Homo sapiens: one gene and its partners. The protein of the gene in region 3 interacts with the protein of the main gene of each other region in a pairwise test. Each region holds a gene or a part of one and is shown on either strand. Other genes may lie near its edges. The genes, in order: MYBPC2, CDK11B and MSN.

Evidence for each region.
Region 1: the proteins of MSN (region 3) and MYBPC2 interact in a two-hybrid assay, tested with the Homo sapiens proteins (one large-scale study listed by BioGRID and IntAct).
Region 2: the proteins of MSN (region 3) and CDK11B interact in a two-hybrid assay, tested with the Homo sapiens proteins (one large-scale study listed by BioGRID and IntAct).

The regions. Positions count from the first base shown.
Region 1 is NC_000019.10:50,456,802-50,460,448, forward strand, and holds part of MYBPC2 (myosin-binding protein C, fast-type), read left to right. Parts: intron 1-1,785; coding exon 1,786-1,953; intron 1,954-2,116; coding exon 2,117-2,205; intron 2,206-2,309; coding exon 2,310-2,505; intron 2,506-3,238; coding exon 3,239-3,378; intron 3,379-3,647. UniProt on the Homo sapiens protein: Thick filament-associated protein located in the crossbridge region of vertebrate striated muscle a bands. In vitro it binds MHC, F-actin and native thin filaments, and modifies the activity of actin-activated myosin ATPase.
Region 2 is NC_000001.11:1,634,959-1,638,605, forward strand, and holds the end of CDK11B (cyclin-dependent kinase 11B), read right to left. Parts: intron 3,633-3,647; coding exon 3,542-3,632; intron 2,926-3,541; coding exon 2,804-2,925; intron 2,556-2,803; coding exon 2,450-2,555; intron 2,245-2,449; coding exon 2,123-2,244; intron 2,047-2,122; coding exon 1,939-2,046; intron 1,896-1,938; coding exon of another isoform or gene 1,841-1,895; coding exon 1,724-1,840; intron 1,524-1,723; coding exon 1,375-1,523; intron 1,169-1,374; coding exon 979-1,168; intron 899-978; coding exon 806-898; 3' UTR 267-805; downstream 1-266. UniProt on the Homo sapiens protein: Plays multiple roles in cell cycle progression, cytokinesis and apoptosis. Involved in pre-mRNA splicing in a kinase activity-dependent manner. Isoform 7 may act as a negative regulator of normal cell cycle progression.
Region 3 is NC_000023.11:65,712,525-65,716,171, reverse strand, and holds part of MSN (moesin), read right to left. Parts: intron 1-3,647. UniProt on the Homo sapiens protein: Ezrin-radixin-moesin (ERM) family protein that connects the actin cytoskeleton to the plasma membrane and thereby regulates the structure and function of specific domains of the cell cortex.

The DNA of each region.
Region 1 (3,647 bases), on a different chromosome or scaffold from region 3:
CCTATATGGCCATCCAACCATCTGTCCACCTAACCAGCCATTGTCTCTCTGCCTGTCCATCCATCATCTGTACCTCCATACATCCACTCTCCATCCTCCACCAAACAAACATTCACTGAGCACTGACTTGTGCCCGGCCCAGTGCCATGGCTATGGAGATGTCTCAGACGCAGCCATCTCTCTGGGAGAACAGACGTGATCACCTCGACACACTATCCCAGGTCTTAAAGTCAGACAGATGCGGGTTCCAACCTTGCCCCTCCACTGTCTAACTGTGTGTCCTTGGGCAAGTCTCTGAGCCTCAGTCTCTTCATCTAACCATGGCGAAGACAGTTCTCATCTTGACAGGGTACAGTGACGATGTACTCGAGAATGCATGGAAAGGAGGGATGGTTGAACCCTCATCAGCTTCCTCCCTCCTCCTCTCCTCCGTGCTCTTTACCCCATTCCTCCCTGGCCGGCTGCTCCCACCCTGACGTTTCAGAACCCAGCTTGTTAGAGTTCACTCTGTTGATTGCTGCTCTGAGCCAACAGCCATGAGTTCCCCAGCCCATGGCCATAAACCCAAGACAGAAGGGCATGTAACGAAAAGCAGGCAATCTGAAGAGCTCTGACCCTGCCCTCAGCCCGCCTTCCCAGACACCCACCTGGCTGCGCCCTCAGACAGAGCCAAGATCCCTGCCCCTCTGTGCCAGCCTTGCAGGAGAGCAGAGCTTGAGAGCGTGCTGGAGTCAGACAGGCCTGGGTTTAACATCCTAGTCCACAGAGCCTGAGCTGCGTGTCCAGGATGGTCTTGAATTCCTGGGCTTGAGAGATCCTCCTGCCTTGGCTTCCCAAAGTGCTGGGATTACAGGCATGAGCCATGGTACCTGGGGAAAGTTTTTTTTTTTTTTTTTTTGATGGAGTCTTGGTCTGTCGCCCAGGCTGGAATGCAGTGGGGTGATCTCGGCTCACTGCAACCTCTGCCTCCCAGGTTCAAGCGATTCTCCTGCCTCAGCCTCCTGAGTAGCTGGGATTACAGGTGCCTGCCACCTTGCCCGGCTAAGTATTGTGTTTTTAATAGAGACAGGGTTTCGCCATGTTGGCCAGGCTGGTCTTGAACTCCTGGACTCAAGTGATCTGCCCACCTCAGCCTCCCGAAGTGCTGGGATTACAAGCATGAGCCACGGGATTACAAGCATGTTAGGGATGGTTTCCCATCCTTAACATGGGGATAGCACAGGGTTGAGGTAAGAATTAATGAACAACGCCTATAATCCCAGCACTTTGGGAGGCCGAGGTGGGCGGATCACGAGGTCAGGAGTTCAAGAGCATCCTGGCCAACATGGTGAAACCCCATCTCTATTAAAAATACAAAAATTAGCTGGGCGTGGTGGTGCGAGCCTGTAGTCCCAGCTACTCAGGAGGCTGAGGCAGGAGAATTACTTGAACCTGGGAGGCGGAGGTTGCAGTGAGCCAAGATCTTGCCATTGCCCTGCAGCCTGGGCGACAGGGCGAGACTCCACCTAAAAAAAAAAAAAAAAGAATTCGTCCCACTGCACTCCAGCCTGGGCGACAGGGCGAGACTCCGTTTAAAAAAAAAAAAAATTAATGAGCGAACAGAATGGCCACCCTTAGAACCTGGCCATGATGAATGCTTAACTAACTCCAGCTGCTGCTGCTGCTTCTACTGGGAACTTACTCAGTGCTCACTCGCTCGCTGCGTGGGGCCCAAGTCCCCGGGAGAAACGGGAGCGGAGGATGGGAGGAGGGCACGAGATCCGCCAGCAGGGCCTCTCTCTCCAGCCGAGGAATGGGTCCCTGCCAACACCGAGCCCGTGGAGCGCTGTGGCTTCACCGTCAAGAATCTCCCGACCGGAGCCAGAATCCTCTTCCGAGTAGTTGGGGTCAACATCGCGGGGCGCAGCGAGCCGGCCACCCTGGCCCAGCCGGTCACCATCAGGGAGATTGCGGGTGCGTGGCCCCTGACCCTGCGCTCCGAAAGACCAAGCTGGCGTCGTCCCGCCTGCCCTTTCCGTGTCGTCGACAGGACCTCCCCAGAGAGCCTTATCACCATTGGCCCCTGGAATGCGCCCCGGCCCCCCGCTGAGCCCCCTCCCTGTGTTTGCGCCCTCAGAGCCACCCAAGATCCGGCTTCCCCGCCATCTCCGCCAGACCTACATCCGCAAAGTGGGCGAGCAGCTCAACCTTGTCGTCCCCTTCCAGGTCAGGGGAGCGGGGTCACGGGCCGGGGGTCCGCTCTCGCCGCAAGCCCCCTTTTTGCGGGTGGAGCCCCGCTGACCCCACCCCGCCCCGCCCTCTCCCCGCAGGGAAAGCCCCGGCCCCAGGTGGTGTGGACCAAGGGCGGGGCCCCGCTGGACACCTCCCGCGTGCACGTGCGGACCAGCGACTTCGACACCGTGTTCTTCGTGCGCCAGGCGGCCCGCTCCGACTCCGGGGAGTACGAGCTGAGCGTGCAGATCGAGAACATGAAGGACACCGCCACCATCCGCATCCGCGTTGTGGGTGCGCGCGCTGGGGAGGGCCCCTGGAGGCCGGGAGGGGCAGGGATGGGCAGCGATGGGGGAGGAGGTAAGAGATGAGGGGTGGGGAAGGAGGTGGGAGATGAAGGGTGGGAGAGGAGGTGAGATGAGGGATGGGAGAGGAGGTGAGAGATGGGGGGTGGGAGAGGAGGTGAGAGATGAGGGGTGGGAGAGGAGGTGAGATGGGGGTGGGAGAGGAGGTGAGAGATGGGGGGGTGGGAGAGGAGGTGAGAGATGGTGGGAGAGGAGGTGAGAGATGGTGGGAGAGGAGGTGAGAGATGGGGGGTAGGAGAGGAGGTGAGACGAGGGGTGGGAGAGGAGGTGAGAGATGAGGGATGGGAGAGGAGGTGAGGAGATGAGGAGGGGAGGGGGAGAGGAGGTGAAAAGATGAGGTGGGGGAGACTAGATAAGGAGCAAGGCAAGTACCAGGGCTAGGAGTGGAGGAGAGATGAAGATGGGGGAACCCTTGAGAGGGAGATTGGGTGAAGAGAGGAAGTGGGGAGACATGGGGGTGAGGAGAGGAGGTGAGGAGGGATGAGGGTGGCCCAGGATAAGAGGAAGTGGAGAGACTGGGATGGGGGAGGCCATAGGCAGGAATGGGAATGGGGCATAAGAGAGGTTAGAATCAGGAGGGAGGGGGTGTGGAGAGGGGAGGGGAGGGAAGCGGCTGGACATCCCAAAACCTGGACTGACTTGTCACACTTCCCCATTTCCAGAAAAGGCTGGGCCCCCCATAAACGTGATGGTGAAGGAGGTGTGGGGCACGAACGCGCTGGTGGAGTGGCAGGCCCCCAAAGATGATGGGAACAGTGAGATCATGGGGTATTTCGTCCAGAAAGCAGACAAAAAAACCATGGTGAGAGAGCAGAGGGGGAGATGGGGAAGAGCCGGTGAGGTGGGCAGAGCAGGTGCAGATGTCCCCCGTTCACAGCTGGAAGGGCAGGGAGGGGCCCAGAGGCTAGAGGACGGGCTGGGGCCAGGAGGGAAGCCTTTTAGCTGAGACTTGGCACGTGATGGGTTTTCATTTTCTTTTTTCACTGAGGTAAACGTCACATAACGGAATTAGTCATTCATCGTTTTAAAGCGAACAATTCAGCAGCACTTAGGACATCTGCAGGGTTGTGC
Region 2 (3,647 bases), on a different chromosome or scaffold from region 3:
GAAAGATGTGGCTGGGATGGGCCTCCAGGATCTTCTGCAAGGAGATGTGGGTGGGGGCTGGGAGGACTGGCACAGGGTGGGGGACCACCTTGCCAGAGTGGAGGCCCCCCAGGAGGTAGGAGCTCCCCTCCTGCCTGGGGAAGACACTGGCCCACATGGGGTCAGAGGCCACAGCCGCCCACCCCACCCTCTTCCCCTAGAGCCCGGTGGTCTGCGACTCCCCTCCCACACATGGTCCCGGGTCACTCAAAGGACGACACGGGGAGCTTTCCTCGAAGAATATTTTAATACATTTTAAAACTCAACAACCTTGTATAAAAACCTGTCGAGTCTGCTGGCACAGCTGGGGCTGGGGGTTGGGGGCCGGGGGCCTGTGTGGACAGGGCTGGTCTGGACGAGTGGGTTGGGGCAAGAGGGCATCGCTCATCCCAACACAGAAACAGGTCTCCAGCTCCGAAGATTAAACAATCCACCCGGCTCCCACCAGTTCCTTTCCAAATCACGGCCCAGCCAGCCCCGTGCGTGTCGAGAGTGGGAGAGGGTGTGTGGAGGTTTGTGCTGCCCCACGTGGGCACCCGAAGATGTCCACCCTCTCCGCCCTGGGCAAGTCACGGAGAAAACACAGCTCTTTCCTCCACAACAAGGAAAATGATTTAATTCTACAAATTTACAAACCAAAATACAAAAACAAAACATGGAGCACAAAGTAAGACGAGGAGTTCCGAGTCTCATCGCAGCTCCAGCCGCAGTAGCCACGCCTGTGGTCCCGGCTGAGTTCTCCCCATGACGGGGTCCACTCTGACCTTCAGAACTTGAGGCTGAAGCCGGGGCCCGCGGCAGAGGCCCCCTGGTTCGTGGTGGTAAGGTGGAAGCCCGTCTCCTTCAGGTCGTCGTCACCCTGGGACGAGTCGGCTACCGTGAGAACCCTGCCCAAGCCAGCCCCACCTGTGGGCACGCCCCACCCGCCAGGCCCCTCACCAGCTGGCTGTAGCCCAGGCCTCCCTCAGGGGGCCTCGGGCTGGTGCCCCGCTTCACACGCTGCTGCTCGCTCTTGGCGGGCCACGTGGGGAACATGGAGGGGTCGATGGGGAGGGGGGTCTCGCGGAAATACTCATGCTTGAGGCCGTCCTCAGCGCTGATCCTCCTCCCGGGGAAGTAGGTCAGGAACCTGGGGGGAGAGGGCCAGAGGCCCAGGAGGTGCTCGTGTGCTCCACTGGGTCCCCCAAAGATGGGCTGTGTTGGGACGGGGCTCAGGGCATGGGACGCCAGGCACCAGAGCAGTTCTGGAACGTGGTGAGCCAGCAGGTAGGCCTGGGACTGGGAAGTCACCGCTATGGCTCGGGACCTCCCGCCACCCGGCTGCACTGGGCTCACTTGTTCATGAGGTCGAAGCCCTGGTCTGAGAGCAGAGCCCCGAAGCGCTTGCGGAGGTTGTTGTAGGGGTGCTCGCTGAAGGTCATCTTCTTGACTGCTGGGAGCTCGCTGTAGCCGGGCCAGATTTTCTCACTAGGGGTCCCCAGATCCTGAAAGACAGAGGTGCTTCAACAGCCACACCAAGTGGCCCACAGTGTTGGCACCTGTGTCCCGTCAGAGAAGACAAGCCACCAGGAGGGCTCTCAGTGGCCCTGGTCCCCATCTCAACCCAGCACCTGTGCGCCCCGCAGCCCCATTCCTGCAACTCCTCCACAACCCCACAGCGCACCTGCAGCAGGGCCAGACCCACCTTGAACACCTTGTTGATCTGATCGATTTCTGACTTCCCGGGGAACAGAGGCTTCTGAGTCAGCAGCTCCCCGAAGATGCAACCCACTGACCACATGTCCACGGCCGTGGAGTATTCCTAAGAGGTCAGGAGAGGTGTTCAGGAGGGCCAGTGCCCGCGAAGCTGTGGGAGGCTGCGTGGGGGACAGGGGAGGCACTCAGACGCCCAGGACTCACCTTGGCACCAAGCAGCAGCTCTGGGGCGCGGTACCACAGGGTCACCACGACCGGGGTGTAGGCCTTCAGAGGGGATCCGTACTCCCGCGCCAGCCCGAAGTCACCCACCTGCAACGACAGATGGGCGGCTGTGAGTGGGCCCCGGCAGGTCTCCCTGGGATGGGCCACTCGGAGGGGGGCTCACCTTGAGGATGCCGGCGTGGCTCAGCAGCAGGTTGGACGTCTTGAGGTCACGGTGCAGGATCCAGTTGTCGTGCAGGTGTTTCACCCCACGCAGCAGCTGGATCATCAGGGTCTTCACCTCCCCTGGGAGGGAGGGAAGCTCCCATGTGGACCTGGCTGCCCCCAGCCCAGGGCACTCAGGGTGGCCCACTCGCCTCGGCAGCAACAGAGGCTTCTCAGGGCTTTCCCTGTGGATGCAGCTGGCCCTCCCTGCAGCACTGTCACCGCGGGGGTGACCAGGACCCTGCCCCCACTTGTACGCAGACAGGCCCCTGGGGCGCGGCTGTACCTGGCAGGAAGGGCTGTTTCATGGTCTCCATCAGGCTCTTGAGGTCGTGCTCCACATAGTTCATCACGATGTAGATCTTGTCCATGTTGCTGCCCACCACAATCTCCTGCAGGGCACGGCTCTGTGGGTGCTGGGCACCTCCAGGCCCCCACCCACCCCTGCACCCGGGTGCAGCTGCTGAGGGACAGTAAGGACCTCCGGTGCCACCCGGGAGGCAAATGCTTGCTTCTGTGTGGTCTGTGAAGGGCTCCACTAAGTGCAGGAGAGTGTAGGAAGCACCCGGCCCCAGGACAGCACGGGGCCCTGTCAGAAAAGCCTTCCACCCGGGGCCAGGCGTGGTGGGGCCATGCTCACTCTAACGGTGACGATGTTGGGATGCTGGGCCTTGAGGATGGTGTTGATCTCCCTCAGCGACGTGATCGGGAAGCCCTCCTTCTCCTTCTCCATCTTCAGCCGCTTTAGAGCCACAATTTCATCTGTGAAGAAAATACAGACGGCACTGAGAGGCATTCTCAAAGTCACGGTACCAACAGTGGACTCGTTCAGTGAGGACCGCAGGCAGTGCCCAAAGCGCCAGCATTTCACGGAGGGGGGTCTCGTTCTAGGTGGGGGCACGTGGGCACCAGGAGAACGCCCCAGCTGAGGTCTGGGCAACACCCACGGCTTCCCACTCAACACACCACAGACACTCACAGCCACCTACAGCCACCTGGGATCCCAGCGGCCACGCCGACTCCACATCGACTTCCCCAACAGAGCCGGCCTCACCTGGGATCCCAGTGGCCGACTCCCAACAGAGTTCCCGGCTCACACACCTGCTTGGGTGGGACGCTGGGAACGCAAACCTGCACACCAGCCCCGGCACAGACCACTCCACGCGCTGGGCCTCGGCCCTGTGGGGCAGGCCGCCTGCTACTGCAAGGGAGTGGCAAAGCCCCAGGGCCAGGCTGACCTCTGGCTTCTAGAGGTGCTGAGGGGTCCAACCTCCAGTAGCTGCTCAGGTGAGGCGGGCCCAGGTGCAGTCGCAGCTCTCGGGCAGCCAGCCCCTGCCCCACTTCCCCTGCCTTTGTGGGGTGAGGGGACCCCACCCACCTGTTTTCTTGTCTTTTGCTCTGTAGACCACTCCATAGGTGCCCTCCTCGATCCTGTTCAGGCACTGGAACTCCTCGACGCTCCGGCAGCCCTGGGAAGGAAGCGC
Region 3 (3,647 bases):
TCTCACCTCTGATCTACCTGGATTATCTATAGCACTGGTAAACAATTGCAGAGGCAAATTAATATCAGGACAAAGAGCACTGGGTTCCACATGATAATCTAAAGGGCAGAAAAAGCTTTCAATAAAATCTAACACCCCTTCATGTTAAAAGTTCTCAATAAACTAGGTATTGAAGGAGCATACCTCAAAATAATAAGAGCCATCTGATAAAGCCACAACCAACATCATACTGAATGCGCCAAAGCTGGAAGCATTCCCTTTTAAAACCGACACAAGACAAGAATGCCCTCTCTCACCACTCATATTCAACATAGTATTAGAAGTCCTGGCCAGAGCAATCAGACCAGAGAAAGAAATAGAGGGCAACCAAGCAAGAGGAGAGGAAGTCAAACTATCCTTGTTTGCAGATGACATGATCCTATATCTAGAAAATCCAATAGTCTCGGCCCAAAAGCTCCTTAATCTGATAAATAACTTCAGCAAAGTCTCAGTGTACAAAAATCAACATACAAAAGTCACTAGCATTCGTATACACCAACAACAGTCAAGCCAAGAGCCAAATCAGGAAGGCAATCCCATTCAGAACTGCCACAAAAGAATAAATATCTAGGAATACTGTTAACTAGGGAAGCGAAAGATCTCTACAAGAAGAACTACAAATCACTGCTCAAAGAAATCAGATATGACACAAACAAATGGAGAAACAGTCCATGCTCATGAATAGGAAGAATCAATATTGTTAAAATGGTGATACTGCCCAAAGCAATTCATAGAATAGACTCAATGCTATTCCTATCAAACTACCAATGACATTCTTCACAGAACTAGGAAAAACTATTTTAAAATTCATATGGAAACAAAAAAACAGCCTGAATAACCATGGCAATCCTAAGCAAAAAGAACAAAGCTGGAGGCATCATGCTACCCAACTTCAAATGATACTAGAGGGCTCCAGTAACCAAAACAGCATTGTACTGGTACAAAAACAGACACAGAGACCAATGGAGCAGAATAGAGAGCCCAGAAATAAGGCCACACACCTACAACCATCTGATCTTTGACAAAGTCGACAAAAACAAGCAATGGAAAAAGGACTCCCAATTCAATAAACAGTGCTGGGATAACTGGTTAGCCATATGTAGAAGATTGAAACTGGACCCCATCCTTATCTCACATATAAAAATCAACTCTATATGTATTAAAGACTTAAATGTAAAAGTAATGTAAAACTCAAAATTATAAAAACCCTCAAAGAAAACCTACGTAATACCATTCTGAACATAGGAATGGACAAAGATTTCATAACAAAGACGCCAAAAGCAATTGCAACAAAAGCAAAAATTGACAAATGAGATCTAACTAAACTAAAGAGCTTCTGCACAGCAAAAGAAACTATCGAGTTAACAGGCAACCTACGGAACCAGAGAAAATATTTGCAAACTATGCAACTTACAAAGGTCTAATATCCAGCATCTATAAGGAACTTTAACAAATTTACAAGAAAAAAAACAACCCCATTAAAATGTGAGCAAAGGATATGAAGAGACACTTTTCAAAAGAAGACATACATGTGGCCAAGAAGCATATATAAAAAATTTACATCATTAGAGAAATGCAAATCAAAACCACAATGAGATACCATCTCACACAAGTCAGAATAGCTATTATTAAAAAATCAAAAAAAAATAATAACAGATGCTAGTGAGATTGCAAAGAAAAGGGAACCTTTATACACTGTTGGTGGGAGTGTAAATTAGTTCAACCATGGTAGAAAACAGTGTGGCAATTTCTCAAAGACCTGAAAACAAAACTACCATTCAACCCAGCAATATCATTATGGGGTATATATCCAAAGGAATATAAATCATTCTATCATAAAAATACATAAACGCGCATGTGCATTGAAGCACTATTCACAATAGCAATGACATGGAATCAACCTAAATGCCAGTCAATGGTAGACTGGATAAAGAAAATGTATGTTAGTATGCAGCCATAAAAAACAACAAGATCATGTCCTTTGCAGGAACATGAATGGAGTGGAGGTCATTATCCTTAGCAAACTAATGCAGGAACAGAAAATCAAATGCCAGACTGGGCATGGTAGCTCACACCTGTAATCCCAGCACTTTGGGAGGCCAAGATGGACGCATCCCTTGAGGCCAGGAGTTCAAGACCAGCCTGGACAATATAGCGAAACCCCATCTCTACTAAAAACACAAAAATTAGCCAGGCAAGGTGGTGCACACCTGTAATCCCAGCTACTTTGGTGGCTGAGGCACGAGAATCGCTTTAACCCGGGAGGCAGAGGTTGTAGAATACCACATGTTCTCACTTATAAGTGGGAATTAAATGATGAGAACACACAGACACATAGAAGGTGGAGGGTGGGAGGAGGGAGATGATCAGGAAAAAATATTTTAATAACTAATGGGTACTAGGCTTAATACCTGGGTGATAAAATGATCTGTACAATGAACCCCCATGACATGAGTTTACCTTATGACAAACCTGCACATGTACCCCTGAACTTAAAATAAAAATTAAAAACAAAGAAGAACACTGGATTCCAAGCCTAGCATGTAGCTGGTCAAATCTACAACCTTGGATAACTCCTGTCCTTTTCCTGGGCCTTAGTTTCCCTTACCTGTGCAAAGGCAGGAATGGGATGGAGGGCAGCCAATTAAACTAGATAAATGGTCCAAAGACCATTTCAGTGCTGATGTCGGTGGTTCTATATACTGCCTTGCATTGCTAATGCTTCCTATATTTATGTCTCATTGGCTTCCTTAGGCTCAAGAGGGGAAGGGGGCCTCAGTAGAGGTGGGTATGGGTGGCATAGAGGGGCTACCAAAGCCAACTCAGTGGGAGGACAAAGGTGCAGAAACAGGCCCAGACCAAAATAAGAGACAGCCACACACATGATTTCACGGGCACTAGAAAAAATACCACCTTTACAAATAGATCCTCGAAGCTAGGTCAATGATAGCTGAAATTTCATAATTAGAGATTTAGTCCTTTGGCTGAAAACTCAGTAGTAATGGTAGCAGTAGTAATAGTAACAGGCAGCAGCTTTCCTGTATCAAGACTTGCTACTCACCAGGCACTTCATATGTACTACCTCATTTAATATCAATAATCACCCTGTGAAGTAGAGTATTATCTCCACATTGGAGATAAAGAAATAGGTATTTGTCTAAAGTCACATTGCTATTAAGCAGGGGAGACAGGGTTTGAATCCAGGTCTAAATCCAAACCTCACAATGTAAACCAATATGCTAAATTCCTCTTACAGAGTACAAAAGTCTCCCATTAAAAGAAAAAAAAGATTGATTTTTAGTTGTTAGATATTTTGCTTAAATAATGTATATAGTACAGCCACAAAATGGCTTCTTATATGGTCATACAAAATCTTTATGAAGACTATTTCATGCTCACGGAAGACACTTTAGTAATATTGAGGAAATGTAAACAGTATTTCATAGAGTCCGTGAGCTCAACTTTGTAAAATGTATACATAGAAGGATGATTGGAATCTTGTCCAAGTATTAGTCAGGCTTGGTTTTGGGGTGGTGATCTTATGGGTGCTTTCTCCTTTCTTTAAACTAAAAAAAAAAAAAAAAAATCTAATCTACATTTTCTAAGTT